Linked DNA regions of Homo sapiens. The protein of the gene in region 1 purifies or fractionates together with the protein of each later gene. This does not show direct contact. Each region holds a gene or a part of one and is shown in the gene's direction. Other genes may lie near its edges.

Region 1 (7,274 bases):
ATTCCACACTTAACCTGCTGAATCTTAATCGGGGCTGTTTTTAAGCATTACAAAATTTCAACCAAGGGATTGCTAATGAACAATTTTTTTTTTCTTTGCCATGAGGGTATGAAAATACTTTCTACCTTGAAAGGCTATTAATTAAAAGCATGGACTTTGGAGTAACATAGACCTAGCGGTGAATCTGCTTTACAAACAGTGTGACCTTGAGTGTGTCACATTTTTTTCAGAACTAATTTTTCTCTTCTGTGTAAAGGGAATAATAACAGTACTTACACTTCATAGAGCTGTTGTGAAGATTAAATGGTACAATATGTGTAAGGTACCTAGTAAAGTTTTTTAGGCACAGAGTGAGTACTCAGTAGATGGTAGTTGCTATTATCATTGGTATCCACCTATTGCTATGTTGTACCCTATACTTTGCTGCTGGGTTACTAACCAAGGCATATTTTAGGACCTCTCTTTTTTTATCATCCAAAGCAGATTATGTAGAACCATTTCCATGAGGAAATGAGGGAGCTTATCAGGCCGTCATCTTGCTTCTTATCTAAAACTATCTCCTTATAGTAAGTTACCCCATAGGGCTTGGCATTTCTTCTTTTAGGTTTCACCAAGATCTACCTTAATCTTTCTTTTTATAGACAACCTGTGGCATCTAGTTGCCTCAGTGGTTGGAACCATGGGCTGGATGCATGTTTGTTCAGGCCAAAATCTCTTAAGAAGAACTTGTGAATTTGCACTAGCCTTTGCTGTATCTTTCTAGATTTCCAGGTCTCTCCTGGACCTTATGATGCTAAGTCTTCCCCAGTTCCCTCCATGGGAGAATCACTGTGGCTTGAACAGTCAGAGGAAGGTGATTTTGTCTTCTGTTTTGCAAAGGGAAAGGGTCTCTGGCTGTTAGCTATTACAATGATAAATTGTTTCTGTGTGAGTGTGAATGTAGAGAAGATAGATATCAGAAATGGCAGTTGCCCTTGCAATTGGGATTTTATTTCAGTTCTGGAAATCAGCCTTGTGGATAGCTTAAAATAAAATTTCAAAATAAATGGTTAGTCAGATTCATAGAGACAGAAAGTAAAATGGTTACCAGGAGCTGGAGGGAGGGAGGAGTGGGGAAGTTATTGTTTAATGGATAGAGAGTTTCAGTTTGGGAAGATGAAATAATTCTGGAGATGGGTGGTGGTGATGGTTGTACAACAGTATGACTGTACTTAAAAACGGTTAAAATTATACATTTTATGTTACATCTATTTTACCACAATAAAAAACATTCAGGCCCAGACTGTGGCAGATCTGCAAGAGTTACAGAGCACCACAACTTTGGAAGAAGCATCATAAAAAGGGGAAGTTAATTGTCTATTTTTCTTAAAATTGTGATTATTTTCTTCATCAGAAGCACAGAGATGCCCCTGCTTGAGAGGGGCACCATGTACCGGGCACTATGCTGTGATTTTGTGTGAGGTGTCCTCAGAGGATGGTTCTTAATGGCTGGTTTTTATGAAGGAGAGTCTGTTTTTGGACCTCAGGGAACTTCTGAGCAAAAGGAGCTCATCTATTTACCCTTGATCCAGGAACGACAGATAGAGAATATTTTCTGAGGAGACAAGACTTAGAAAGCCAGTACACTTTAAATGTTGAGTTTTGTAATGTCAGGTTGAATGCTGGCAAGACCCAGGGAAGAGCAAGTGTTGAGCAACCTAGCCTTTTTTCTGTTCCCAGCGGCAAGTCACTTAGTCCTCCCCCAACCTTAGAAGTCAGGGATAGAAAATTCTGTAAAAAGTTTTGGGCATCACTGCTGCCTGAAGCAGATGTGCACGCATTTCAACCATGATAATTGAAACCAAATTTTTCCATTTTGGAAATACTTTTTGACAAAGTAAGGTTTTCAACTGCAAAAACAAAGTCAGGGAAAGAAACCTCTTGATATCCCTGCACCCAGATTTGGATTTTTAGGATTTTGCTTGCTAAGTTTTGAACTGGTAAAACAGATCTGGACAAGATAATTTTTGTGTAAGTTTTCCTAAAGCAAGTGCTTTATTTGATGAAATTTGCCATCATCAAACTGACCTATTTTTTTTTTTCAATTTCTGGATGAATGTTCAAACTAGGTTAAACGGAATAGAGCACTAATAAACCATGTAAAAAATAGCTTGAACATGTGTTGGTAGATTTTTTTTTCTGTTAAATAAGTTCAATGCCTCTCAGGTCAGAGATCTAACTTTTTATCATTTATGAGGATTTTCAGAGTCTTAGCACAACTTTCCTGGACTTTTCATTTTCACTTATGAAAGTATATCATAGCCACTATCAAAACCACACACATACAAGGGCTCAGCTCTCCTATTCAAACCAAACATAAGCTTGGCTTCCAAAATGCCACATAATGAGGAGCATGTTTTCTTTTAGTCTTTCTCTCTTCTTGTCTAATTCTATCTGTCTGTGTAAAATGTTTTACATTTTTACACAGCCCACTTAAGAGTTTTCCCCTTGAGTTTTAAAGAAAGCAGTTTGTGACTTGGGGTTTTAGGAATGTGATTAGTAACATACCTGTTCTTGAGCTTGTTTATGAAGGAGCATGTTACAAGAATGACAGCATCTGCTGGTCATCTTTGGTGAATCATGATTGGCTTGTGTGAAGGCCCCAGTGTGGAAACTCCAAGTTCAATACAATTAATAACACTGACTCCAGTACACACTGCAATTTCCCATAATCAGAAGTGAAGTAGTGCTATATCACAGGTCCTAGGAGATTTGGTCTTTTTTCATTTGGCCTGGTTTGGTTGCACAAGGAAGAACGTCAGAGAGTGGGACATGAAGGGTTGTGCCTCACTTGGCCTGATGGGCTATGGACATTATCCCGAGTCAGTGGACATTGTTATTAAAAGCCCAGGCCTTGGAGTCAGATAGACCTGGGTTTCAGTGCCAGTTCTGCACTTACTAGTTATGTGGGACTTTTGGGAAGACTTTATGTCTGTACCTTAAGAGATAATGCTACCTACTTCCTAGGGTTGTTCTGAAGATAAAATGGAGGTAAGGTGCTTTAACATACCCTCAACTTTCAGGAAATGTTAACTCGATCTGTACCTTACTAATGCATGTGTTCTACGTGTCCATGTGGGCTATTATAGCGATTCAGCCTAATTCTATGAACTGAGGTGGCACTGCTGAAAGAGGATGAAGAGTATGGGGCTCTCTGGTAACCTGTGTGTAAATGGTACTTTGTGATAGCAGGACTGCACCACCAAGTCCTGAATCCTGCTGGCTGGACATCTTCAAGAGTCAGGTTCTTCATTAATCCAGAAGTAGAAATCTAAGTTTGATCATTTTGGTCTTGAACTTTAGGATTGGGATACTTACTAGATCTGCAGTTTGACCAGAGTGCCAGGGGCTCAGAAATCCTATCTATATAGGGTCCCATTGCTGTCCAGAGTTGGAGAAGCAGAGTCATGCCAATGACCTCATGAGAACCTAAAATACAATAGTCAACATGTCATCAGTTTATTGATTTGCAGTAAAATATTACTGGCAAGATATTCCTGAGGGCCTGCAACCACATTCTACCTCTCTGAAGGACAACCACGGGGGAGGCCAAACTGGTCAAAAGGCTGCAGAGTAAACTAGGGACTGAGTTATGGCATTGGAGTATTTACAGACTTCAAACTCCACCATGAGGATCTGACCTGAGGCTGAACCAGCTGACGATATCTGATGATTAAATCACTTTCCTAGACAGAGTGTGATGGGTTGGACCGAGGGCTTTCTTCTCTGTCTGATTCTTAGTTTTTGGTTATTCCTTTCTAAATGACACTTTCTTTGTTGAGAGTTTTTAATGCATTCAGCACAGCTTTGCCCTGGCTCACAGTTGTTTTGCCTTCATTGAGTGGTTTTGCCTCTTTATTCCATCTCATCTCTAGCTTGAACATAATGTGCTTGGGCCTCTTGTATGTGGCCAGTATCAGCTCATGACTTCTGAATTTTATTTGCATCTCTTGGAGACCTTTAGAGGTGAAACAGATCATAACCTTTAACAGCATTTCTCAGACTCCACTTTCCTTCCCTCTACATTCTCGCACACCCAAGATGTTCTGGAACTCCTCATTTGTTTTTTCTTTTCTTTTTTTTTTTTTTAACTTTTATTTTAGGTTCAGGGGTACACGTGCTGGTTTGTTATATAGGTAAACTTGTGTCACAGAGGTTTGTTGTACAGATTAGTACCTGTCATCACCCAGGTAGCCAATAGTTATTTTTTCTGCTCCTCTTCCTCCACCCACCCTCCATCCTCAAGTAGGCCCTAGTGTCTGTTGTTCCCTTCTTTGTGTCCGTGAGTTCTCATCACTTGGAGCTCCTCATTTGTTGGATTCCCCCAAACATTGCTGCACAATCAGCCTGCTTGGAGACTCTTCTATCCCCTGCCTTTCTAGCATGTTTTTTAGTATCCTTTCCTTTCCATTCACTGCCTCCATTTTCCTCAGCAATAGAAAGAGTCTAAGAACTGACACAGTAAGCAGTAACCTATCTCACTTTCTTCCCTCTTCTCTAGTTGTTGCTGGCTTTCTCTCACTCCCATCCTCCTGATTCTGTGTCATCAATGCAGGGGACTGGGCTGCCTAAGAAAGTACTCCTCTCTGAACGTGAGGTGGAGGGGTCATGGAGAGAAAGTTGAGGGGGACAAAGCCATCAGTATTTTAATGAAGGGGAGTGAGGAAAGCTACAGTGGTCAGTAGTTAAACCTAATTTACTTATCTACCTATTAATTTACTCAGTAATCATTCATTGAGCACCTGTCATGTGACAGAAGCTAAGAATTCAGAGGCAACTAAGATAACTGTCTTGGTTCTCATGGAGAGCTCACAATCTAGAGGGGGCAGCAGTGTGCTGGAGTCAGCACTCACCCACTTGGAAAAGCTGTTTGTTAAATTTTCAGGAATTTTCGGAGCCAGTTATTAAATATAGCCATTATTAACAAATTATGTAACTTATAAATTATATTAAAAATGAATGTAATAAATACCCCAAACTCATCACTTTCTAATTATTTTTTACTGTAATCTTCTAGGGCTTTGAGGTTATGTCTATTGTGTCTTGGTGTAGAAATACTATACAGTGATATGATGGTGTGCTGTTGCACATCTCTTCCCAAATCTCATGTTCGGTGGCATCATGTTGGTAGCTTAAAATCTGCCATGGTGGGAGTATTTACAGTCTGGAAATTGGCAAATGTTACAAATCAGGGCTCCTTTCCTCCCAATCAACTGTTAAACATTTACCAGCACACACTGTGTGGGGCAGACAGATAAGTAAGAGGTAATTAGAATACAATACAGAAGGAAGCACAGTACTGTGGGAATACAGAACTGGGGAAACTAACCTAGTTTCCCACTAGATTTTAACTAATCTAGTGAGTAGTGGAGAATGAGAGGGAAGGCTTCAGGGAAGAGGCTTGAAGGCTGGTAGGAACTAGCTAGACACGGGAGAATGAGTGGGGAATAAGATAGAACAGTTTTCTAGTGAGACAAAACTTCACAAGGCAGAGAGCCTAGTGTATTTTGGCTATTGCAAGTATTTTAGTATTACGGTAATAAGAAGTCTTCAGGGCAACGATGGGATTAAGGGCCAGGCTAGGTCCCTGAGATTTATTCTGAATGCAGTGAGGAATCAGTGAGGCTTCATGTAGAACATGCCTGGAACACATTGACATTTTGGAAAAGTCCCTCTGGAGTCTGGGAGGAGGTTATTATAATAATCCTGGCAAGAGACAATGATGACCTGGAATGGGGTTGTAATGGTAGCGAAAGTGAGAAGGAAATGGGGTGCAGGGATATTAATGGACATAGGATTGATTCGATTTATGGCTGTATGTGAGGAGTGAGAGAGAGAGAGAGGGAGGAAGATATCAAGGATAACACCCCAGTTTTTGGCTTGGATAGGTGATTGGGTGGTTGGTTATGCCTCTGAGATAGAGAATACAGAAAGAGTAGCAGGCTTAAGGGAGGGTGGGGAACATAAATTTTGAATAAGTATGAATTACCTGTGTAAAATCTAATTAGGGGAGTCAAATAAGACATTGGATATGTGGATCTGTAATTTAGAGGATAGAGGAGGGCAAGAAAGAAGGCTTTGGAAGGTGCTGTGCTAAAAGAGGGCCTAATTTTTAGAGCTTATATATTTTTATTTATAACTTTTATAATTACTATTTTATGTATATTTTATTTATAATTTAACTCTGAAGGCCAACTCTGCTTTCATTAAAAAATAAAAGTGTTGGTCAGACTATCCCCTTCTACTCTACCATCTAACGCTTGTAAAGACAAGTGAAGGGTCTTCAGGTAGAGTTCAGATGACAAATATGTCATGAGGACCTACTGTGGGCATGACCTCATGCTGGGCAGGCTAAGCTATACAGAGTCCTCAGACACATGTTCCTTGCCCTCTGGGTATGTTGAATCTAGTGTGAGGCAGGTAGGTGGTTGGATTTGTACCCTGAAAAAGTAATCAGGCACAAGGCAGAATTCTATGTGCCAGTTGAGTTACAGGCCAGAAATACTACAGGAATTCAGAGAAGGAAGAGCTCACTTAGAACTGATGTATCCCGAGGGTTTCATGGAGGAGGTAAAGTTTAATTGGTCCTCAAAGAACAGGTATTTAGATTATGATACAGGGAAAGAGAAGGGAAATATAGGTGTCTGCAGTGAACGGTTCATCTGCTTGGCACATAATAGGTACTTAGTAAATATTTGAGTAAGTGAGAGAGGTAAGGCTGGCATTTAGGTTCAGTCCAGGTCAAGGAGGTCCTTGAATACTAGTCAAGAATCATGACTTTATCCTGTAGACTGATGATTTTTCAGCTTTTTAGCTATAGAGTCCTTTGAAAGGAAATTTTATGTGGACCCTCAACATATAGAACAAATGGAGGCAGAGGGCTGTGACTGAAGCTTCAGCTCATAAACCTCACAGCCCCGAAGAGACCTGTGTGCAGTGAGGATCTGAAAGTCATGGTCAGATGACATTTTAGAAGGATCAGTTTGGCGATGGTGTGCAGGAAATACTTGGAGGGAGAGTATCTAGAGTGGGGAACAGCAGGTGGGAGGCCACTGTAATAGTCTAAGTCAGGGGAAAAGAGAAGCTGAAAGCCCAGAAAAGAAGGGCCAACTATGTCTATCCTTATGGCTATGAAGCTTGACTGTCTCACATGTATGTCTTCCTGAATGGGGTCAGTGGGTATCTGTGAGTGTGAGATAAGTCAGAACCAATTTGCAACACCCTTTCTGTGGGCT
Region 2 (7,313 bases), on another chromosome or scaffold:
TGTTTGTTTTTGTTGTTGTCGTGAGACAGAGTCTCACTCTGTTGCCCTGGCTGGAATGCAGTGGCGCAATCTTGGTTCATGTAACCTCTGCCTCCCAAGTTCAAGTGATTCTCCTGCCTCAGCCTCCTGAGTAACTGGGATTACAGGTGCACACCACCACACCCAGCTAATTTTTTTGTATTTTTAGTAGGGACAGGGTTTCACCATGTTGGCCAGGCTGGTCTCGATCTCCTGACCTCAGGTGATCCACCCGTTCGGCCTCCCAAAGTGCTGGGAATACAAGCGTGAGCCACAGCACCTGGCCTACTTTTAGCTGTATGATCTGCCTTACCAGAACTGAGCGTCACCCCAAATCTCACCTCTCCACTAGAATCGCAAATAAAGTCCTACACAGTGAAGTGTTGACTTAGGAAACGGGATCGTTTTCTGATTTGTGTGTCATACTTCGGAACATTTCTAATGGAACCCTGCTGTTGGAAGGAAACAAGTTCTTCAACCATTCATCCATCACAGCTGAGTCAGAAGCGTTGTGTCATCCTGTACCACCCGACCTGCCTACCTCAGGCCCTACCCACGGGGAGCTTCCATCCTGCTGGTTGTCCTGAGGCTCTATGACCCACAGCAGGAAGACACTGCAGCCTGGTCATGCCCTTCCCATCCTCTGACATCATCTTCCAGGAGTAGGGGCCCGAGCTTCCACAGCCCACCTGCTCCCACCTACTGCCACCTTCCTGCCACCACACACTGTCAGGCCTTCATCCTGTCCCCACGCCCTTCCTCAGGTCACAGGTCTTCCTGCATTCCCCCAAGCCACTTGCCTGGCCTCTCTGGGCTCTGCTTTTCCAGCACTGTCCTCCCCATCTGATGCCCCTGCCAGGGTATTCTCCCCATGGTGTGACCCGGGGGGCACTCAGGCAAGTGGCCTGGCCACACTGGACCTGAGCACTAGATAGGTTGCCTGACTCCACTCAGAGGCAGAACCTGCCCCACGGGGCAATTGTGGACTGAGCTCCAGCTGGGCATGGCTAGACCCTGCTCTTCCTTCTAGCCAGTGACCCTCAATGGGCCCTGATGTGAGCAGAGGCAGTGGAGCTAGCCCCATCTCCTTTCCTCCCTTCTTTCATGAGCATTTGTTGAATGCCTTTTGTTGCCAAGACTGTTGAGCATGACCATTATGCCCATCTCACAGATGAGCAAACTGAAACCATGGTCCTGTTGCTTGCTGAGGCCCAGCTCCTGGAACTGCATCTGCATGGAGCAGGTGTGTGCCTGCACGTGCCTACTGGCTGGGTAGGCTGGAGCATAGCCTGGACTTGGGAGAAACTTTTTTCACCAAAGGGGCTCCCTGGCATTGTGGAAGCTAAGGTGATAGCTGTGGGTAGAGGTCACTGTCTCCACTCTGAGGCCTTGAGAAAGTTACTTAAAGTTGAAAAATCTCTGGGCAAGACCTCAATGTACTCATCTGTTCTAAACATCGAAGACAAATGCTGCCCCGTAATCCCAGCACTTTGGGAGGCTGAGGTGGTTGGATCACTTGAGGTCAGGAGTCCGATACCAGCCCGGCCAACATGGTGAAACCTCATCTCTACTAAAAATACAAAATTAGCTGGGCGTGGTGGTGGGCGCCTGTAATCCCAGCTACTCAGGAGGCTGAGGCAGGAGAATTGCTTGATCCTGGGAGGCAGAGGTTGCAGTGAGCTGAGCTGAGATCCCGTCACTGCACTCCAGCCTGGGCAACAAAGTGAAACTCCATCTCAAAAAAACAAAAACAAAAGCAGAAAACAAAAAACAAACCTCCAAAAGACAAATGCTGGCATCATGACCCTGGATCATGCAGCCTCAGGACACCCAGTAAAGCAGACTACAGTATTTATACTCCCCGTCTTAGCAGCAGGGAGATGGAAGCTCAGAGATATCCAGTGACCTGCCAAAGGGCATATAGCCAGTGCTGTGAAGTCCTGACTTCCAAGGTCTGTCCAAGGATCCCTCAGGCTCCATCTGCCAGGATCCCAGGAGCTGCTCCTGAGCCCAGCCTGAGATTCCTTGCAGAGGAAACTGTGACCTGTCCACTACTGACTTAGCTGTGTACCCTAATGGTCATGGGTTGGCAGAGAGAATGAGCTCTCCACCATGGGAGGTGTGTAAGCAGAGATGCGTGAATTCACCCCAAGGGCTCAGAGAGCACACAGTACTCTCTCAGGGACAGGCTGTCCCCCACTCCCCACAGCCTGGGCTGCTCCCTGCTGATTTGTGGGTGTAGCCATCCTTTCCCACGCATGTGTACAAGTGTGGGTGGGCAGCAGCCATGGGTGCTGATGAACCTTCTCCGATGCTGGCAGGTATTTTGCCCACACACTGCCAGTGTGGCCTGTTGGGAGCAGGAGGAGGCCAGATAGGTGTGTGCTGGTCTCAGAACACGCTTAGCTCTGTCCCATCCTGGTTTTCCCTTGGATAGGCTTGAACACACCCATCATGAACAGGTCTGTGGACTTGGTGCCCTTCCTAGATTGACTGAATCTACAAGGAATTGGCAGCCTTTTAAGGTGGGCAAGTCAGGATGATCAGCCCACTCTGCAGGGCCAGATACTGAGGCTCAGGAAGGACCAGGACTTGCCCAAGTTCACTCAGCTGGTTAGGGGCAAGGTTGGGGGGTCTTTAGCCTCCAAAGGGAAGACAGAAAAGATCCTTTTCCACCCCTGACCTCTACCTGGAAGACTCCTGCCCCAGGAGATGCAACTTAGATCCCTGTCCCTCAGGCCTCTCTGTCCTGCAGAGCTGGCGTCTGCTGTTTGGCCTCCTCCTCGTGTGAGCTCTGGGCTCATGCCAGCGGACTTGAGCCCCGGAATGAATGCCTGTCTCACACGGTAGATTAGATTATATAAATAACAGGCAAGTGCCAAATGCATAGCCCTACACCTAGCACACTATTTAACCACTGGCTCTCTGGGGAGAAAAGTCCTGATTTGAGGTGTTTGCCAATTTCCGCAGTGTAAATACTCCCAGCATTGCTGACTTCAGGCTACAGGGTGGCATTGCTGAACCCAGAGCTGGGAAGGGATGTTCACTGTTGCCCCTCACAAATTAGTTTCAGCCAGTGCCAGTGCCCAGCGGGGCTCCAGGAAGTCCTGCTTCTCTGGGTAACAGTTGGCCTGGCATATTCTTCCCTCTACATTGTGAAGGTGAGATATCGCCTCTGCTGGCTTTTATGCCACATGAGTTATTTTGTGCCAGGGGCTCCAAGGCCTACAGGCCCACAAGCATCTTTTCATCTCTGGAAGTGTGTGTGTATCTGATGGGGGTGCCAGCCCAGTGGGATGGGGACTGAGATGAGAATACTCTGGTATCTCCCTTGTGCCTCAGTTTCCTCACCTAGGATCATGGAGGCTGGGGTAAGGGTGAAGTGTTAGCTCAGGGCATTGCCTGGAGCAGGGCTCAGAACTTAGCAGTATGGTTACTGACACAGGTCACCTGCTGCATTAGGGCCAGAGACGCCCAAGAGAGGGCTTGTCCGTGGGGGTCTAGAGGAGGAAGGAGCTAGAGATCATGGAAGACTTCTCGGGAGAGGTGGCATCTGGCAGAGGTGGGAAGGAAGAACACTTTGGGTCAAGGGGCTTCTGGAAGCCTCTCCATATCCCATCCAAGGCATTCCAGCTCAGCTTCGGTCTTGAAAGTTCTGGGATTTAGAGCATATAACTTCTGCCTTTGGCGCCTCAGTTTGCTCTAGACTGTGAAATGGGCATAATGATCACCAGTGCCTCCCTGGGTGATGATGAGGTCCTCATGGTTCCTGGTGGTGAAGTGAGGGCAGGAAAGGACACGCTGAGCCCCACCAGGCTTAGCCCCAGGCTGGGCTCCCGAGGGCGGCGGTACCCCTGGTCCTTTTCTTCCTAGCCTGCCCATTCTGTCCTGGCACAGGGCCTTGAGGTCTAGCGCGCCGGGCTGCGGCGTGCTGAGGCGTTGAGCCTGCTGCCTCCTCTCAGGAAGAAACGGGGTCCTCCGCAGCTGACAGCCCTGCGGGGCGTTCCAAAGAACTTCAGAGGACAGGAGCGCTACCTCGAGCAAAGAACCGCGGGTGGGAGCCCAGGTAGCCGGCCCGCAGGTGGCCGCGCGCGCCTGCCAGTCAGCCAGCCCGTCCGCAGCCAGGTGGGCGTGCCAGGCCCAGCCCCCTGCGCCGGTCCGGGGCGGGGCGAACGGAGCCCCGCCCTCCCCGCGCGCCGGGTCGGAGCCGGTGCGGGAGCGGAGCCGCGCGAAGCCGGCAGGAGCACGCGGGAGCGCGGCCCCGCAGTGGCCCGGCCCGAGAGAGCAGCGCGCAGGAGCTGGAGCGGCGCCACGGCCCCCACCCCAGCGCGGACCTCGCCCGGAACTCGGACCCCGTCCTCGAAGCGTGATCTCTCCCGCCTCGCACGCCCTGGCCGCCGGGCCGCGGGCATGGACGGCGTCCGCTCGCCCTGTGAGTGCCGAGCCTCCCCTCAACGCCGCTCGCCGCCTTTGTGTGCGCGCCGCGGCGCTGCAGCCCCCTCCCCGCGCGCCCCTCCCGCGCCCCGGGCCCGCGTCCTTTGTGGAGCCGCCGCCGGGCCACTGCCTTCCTCCCACCCCCGGGCTTCCCTATCCCCTTTACAGCTGCCTCCGGGACAGCCTAGCAGAACCCTCCTGGGCCAGGGCTGGGCAGGGCGCGAGATCCCTCTGCCGGCCTCCGGGGCCCTCAGGGACACCCTAGCAGGTCCTCTCTCCCAGGGTTCCAGGGACACCACAGGCCCGTCCCTCTCCGCAGCCTGGGGCTGAGCAGGGCACGGACCCCTCCTCCCCAACCCAAGCCTCTGGTCCCGTCTGCAGCCCCCCTTTCCCAGGGCCCCCAGAGACGGCCCCCGCAGGCTCTCTCCGCGGCCGGGGCTGGGCAGGTTGCGGGCTTAGGGCGGCGTTGTCTCATCCGGCGGCCTGGGCAGGTGCGGCAGGGCCGGCGCTCACGCGGGCCTGTGTGTCCTTGGCCCACAGAGATGGACGGCGATGGCGGCCGCCGAGACGTCCCCGGCACGCTGATGGAGCCCGGGCGCGGCGCGGGGCCCGCGGGCATGGCGGAGCCTCGGGCGAAGGCGGCGCGGCCGGGGCCCCAGCGCTTTCTGCGGCGCAGCGTGGTAGAGTCGGACCAGGAGGAGCCGCCGGGCTTGGAGGCAGCCGAGGCGCCGGGCCCGCAGCCCCCGCAGCCCCTGCAGCGCCGGGTGCTTCTGCTCTGCAAGACGCGCCGCCTCATCGCGGAGCGCGCCCGCGGACGCCCCGCCGCCCCCGCGCCCGCAGCGCTGGTAGCGCAGCCGGGAGCCCCCGGAGCCCCCGCGGACGCCGGCCCCGAGCCCGTGGGCACGCAGGAGCCCGGCCCGGACCCCATCGCAGCCGCTGTCGAAACCGCGCCTGCCCCCGACGGCGGCCCCAGGGAGGAGGCGGCGGCGACCGTGAGGAAGGAGGATGAGGGGGCGGCCGAGGCGAAGCCTGAGCCCGGGCGCACTCGCCGGGACGAGCCCGAAGAGGAGGAGGACGACGAGGACGACCTCAAGGCCGTGGCCACCTCTCTGGACGGCCGCTTCCTCAAGTTCGACATCGAGCTGGGCCGCGGTTCCTTCAAGACGGTCTACAAGGGGCTGGACACGGAGACCTGGGTGGAGGTGGCCTGGTGTGAGCTGCAGGTGAGGGTGCCCCAGCCCGCAGGGGGCTTTCCGCAGGGTCTGTCCGCGAGTGCGTCCTTGGGCCTGTCCTTGCTCCTGCGCCTGGCCTTAAGAAGCCCTGGGGGCGGCGGGGCTCCATGTGTGTCACCCTCTGTGTGGATGGCTGGCAGGATGCATACCAGGTGTGCGGACGGCATGTGGGGCCTGGCTGTGTCCGTGCGCAGGTTGCGGTTTGTGAGTCAGCTGGTGGCGAGGGCAGGCCTCTGTTGTGCGTTTGGTGTAAGTGTGCACGCTGTGGGCGTAGAGAGGGTCCTGGAGAGTGGGCCTCGGAGGCTGTGTCTCTTAGGCTGCTGCTTCTCCAGTCCCGATGACCTACTTTAATGACCCAGGGAGTCTGGACTGTTGTGTCTTTGCAAAACAGTGTGGAGGCTTCAAGGCCCGGTGTGTGCAGTCAGAGTGTTTTGGGGGCTCTGGGCTGCCCATAAATTAGTACTTTCCTGTGTCCAGCAAGCCGTGGCTGCCCCAGCAGGGATACCTGCAGAGACTTCTTCTGACCCAGGGCCTGTGACCCAGAGGTGGTGCCTGGTAGAGCTCTGGGGACAGCTGGGCAAGGCCTGGAAGTGTGGTTAGTCGCCTCTGCTGCTCTGAGAGCTCCATTTGTTCACAAAATGGACGTGTGAGAGGTCTTAAAACCGAGTCATGCAGAATGCGTGTGGGGGTTTTTCTTGGCTGCAGAGGCTCTGGGCATGCATTTTTCATAATCCTGCCATCACCGTGGTGTCAGCCCCAGCCCTGCAAGATTATATAAACAGCCACCTTAGCTGTCCTGGGACAGCCTAGGAAGCAGAGGCCATGCCTGTCCAGGGGGTGTTTACAGGCCTCCCTCCTTGGAGGTGGGCAGCTGTCAGGCGTGAGCCAGTCTGGGAGAGTGCCGGCTGGAGGTGTAAGTGTACTCTGTTGGCCTGTAAAGTTAGCTGGCTGTCCAGTCCAGGCCTGAAACGGGGCTGGGGCTAGCTGGGGCAAGCTGTGTTCTGGGGCCGCTGGCCACACTGCGGGACTCTTGCATTTTTGACTCAGAAGTGGGATTCAATTGCTATATCCTCCGGCCCCGACAGGGTGGCCTGCGTGTGTGTGCAAGCCTGGATAATTCGGTGGGTGTCGACCTGTCGTCAGCCTTTCTCCCAAGACAAAGAGCTCCAGAGACCTGCCTCTCCACCACCCCTTGGTTCTGCCTTGGAGATGTGGCTTTTCAAGTTAGGGGTCAGTGGCATTGTGTGAGGTCCTTAGGAGGGACTGAACAGCTCCCCTCCCTCATGGTCCTGTAGGTTCTGATGGTACAGGAAAGGCAGTGGGTGGGGCAGGGGGCTGTGATCTGGGGGTCCTGGGGTGTGCTGGGCATTCCTGCTGCAAGGGAAAGCAGAGAGAAGAGAGGGCCTGAAAGGGGAGACGACTCTTGATTCTGGCGAGCGGTCTTCCTGCTCTTGCCCTTCTGACCGGAGCACCCTCAGGTGCTGCCTCTGCAGGGTGGTGGATGGAACAGGGGTGCTGCAGTAGGCTGGATTTGAGTTAGACCTCGGCAGCCAGAGCCTGCTGATCTGGCTGAGGCATCGCAGGCGCATGTGACTCTTGGAGCTTGTTAGTTCCCATTCCCTTTAAGGA

The links.
Region 2: the proteins of KLHL3 (region 1) and WNK2 purify together in Homo sapiens (affinity purification with western blotting; 2 studies listed by BioGRID, with this or other methods). This does not show direct contact.

The regions. Positions count from the first base shown.
Region 1 is NC_000005.10:137,725,835-137,733,108, reverse strand, and holds part of KLHL3 (kelch-like protein 3), read left to right. Parts: intron 1-7,274. UniProt on the Homo sapiens protein: Substrate-specific adapter of a BCR (BTB-CUL3-RBX1) E3 ubiquitin ligase complex that acts as a regulator of ion transport in the distal nephron.
Region 2 is NC_000009.12:93,179,936-93,187,248, forward strand, and holds the start of WNK2 (serine/threonine-protein kinase WNK2), read left to right. Parts: upstream 1-4,203; 5' UTR 4,204-4,450; intron 4,451-4,992; 5' UTR 4,993-4,994; coding exon 4,995-5,675; intron 5,676-7,313. UniProt on the Homo sapiens protein: Serine/threonine-protein kinase component of the WNK2-SPAK/OSR1 kinase cascade, which plays an important role in the regulation of electrolyte homeostasis, cell signaling, survival, and proliferation.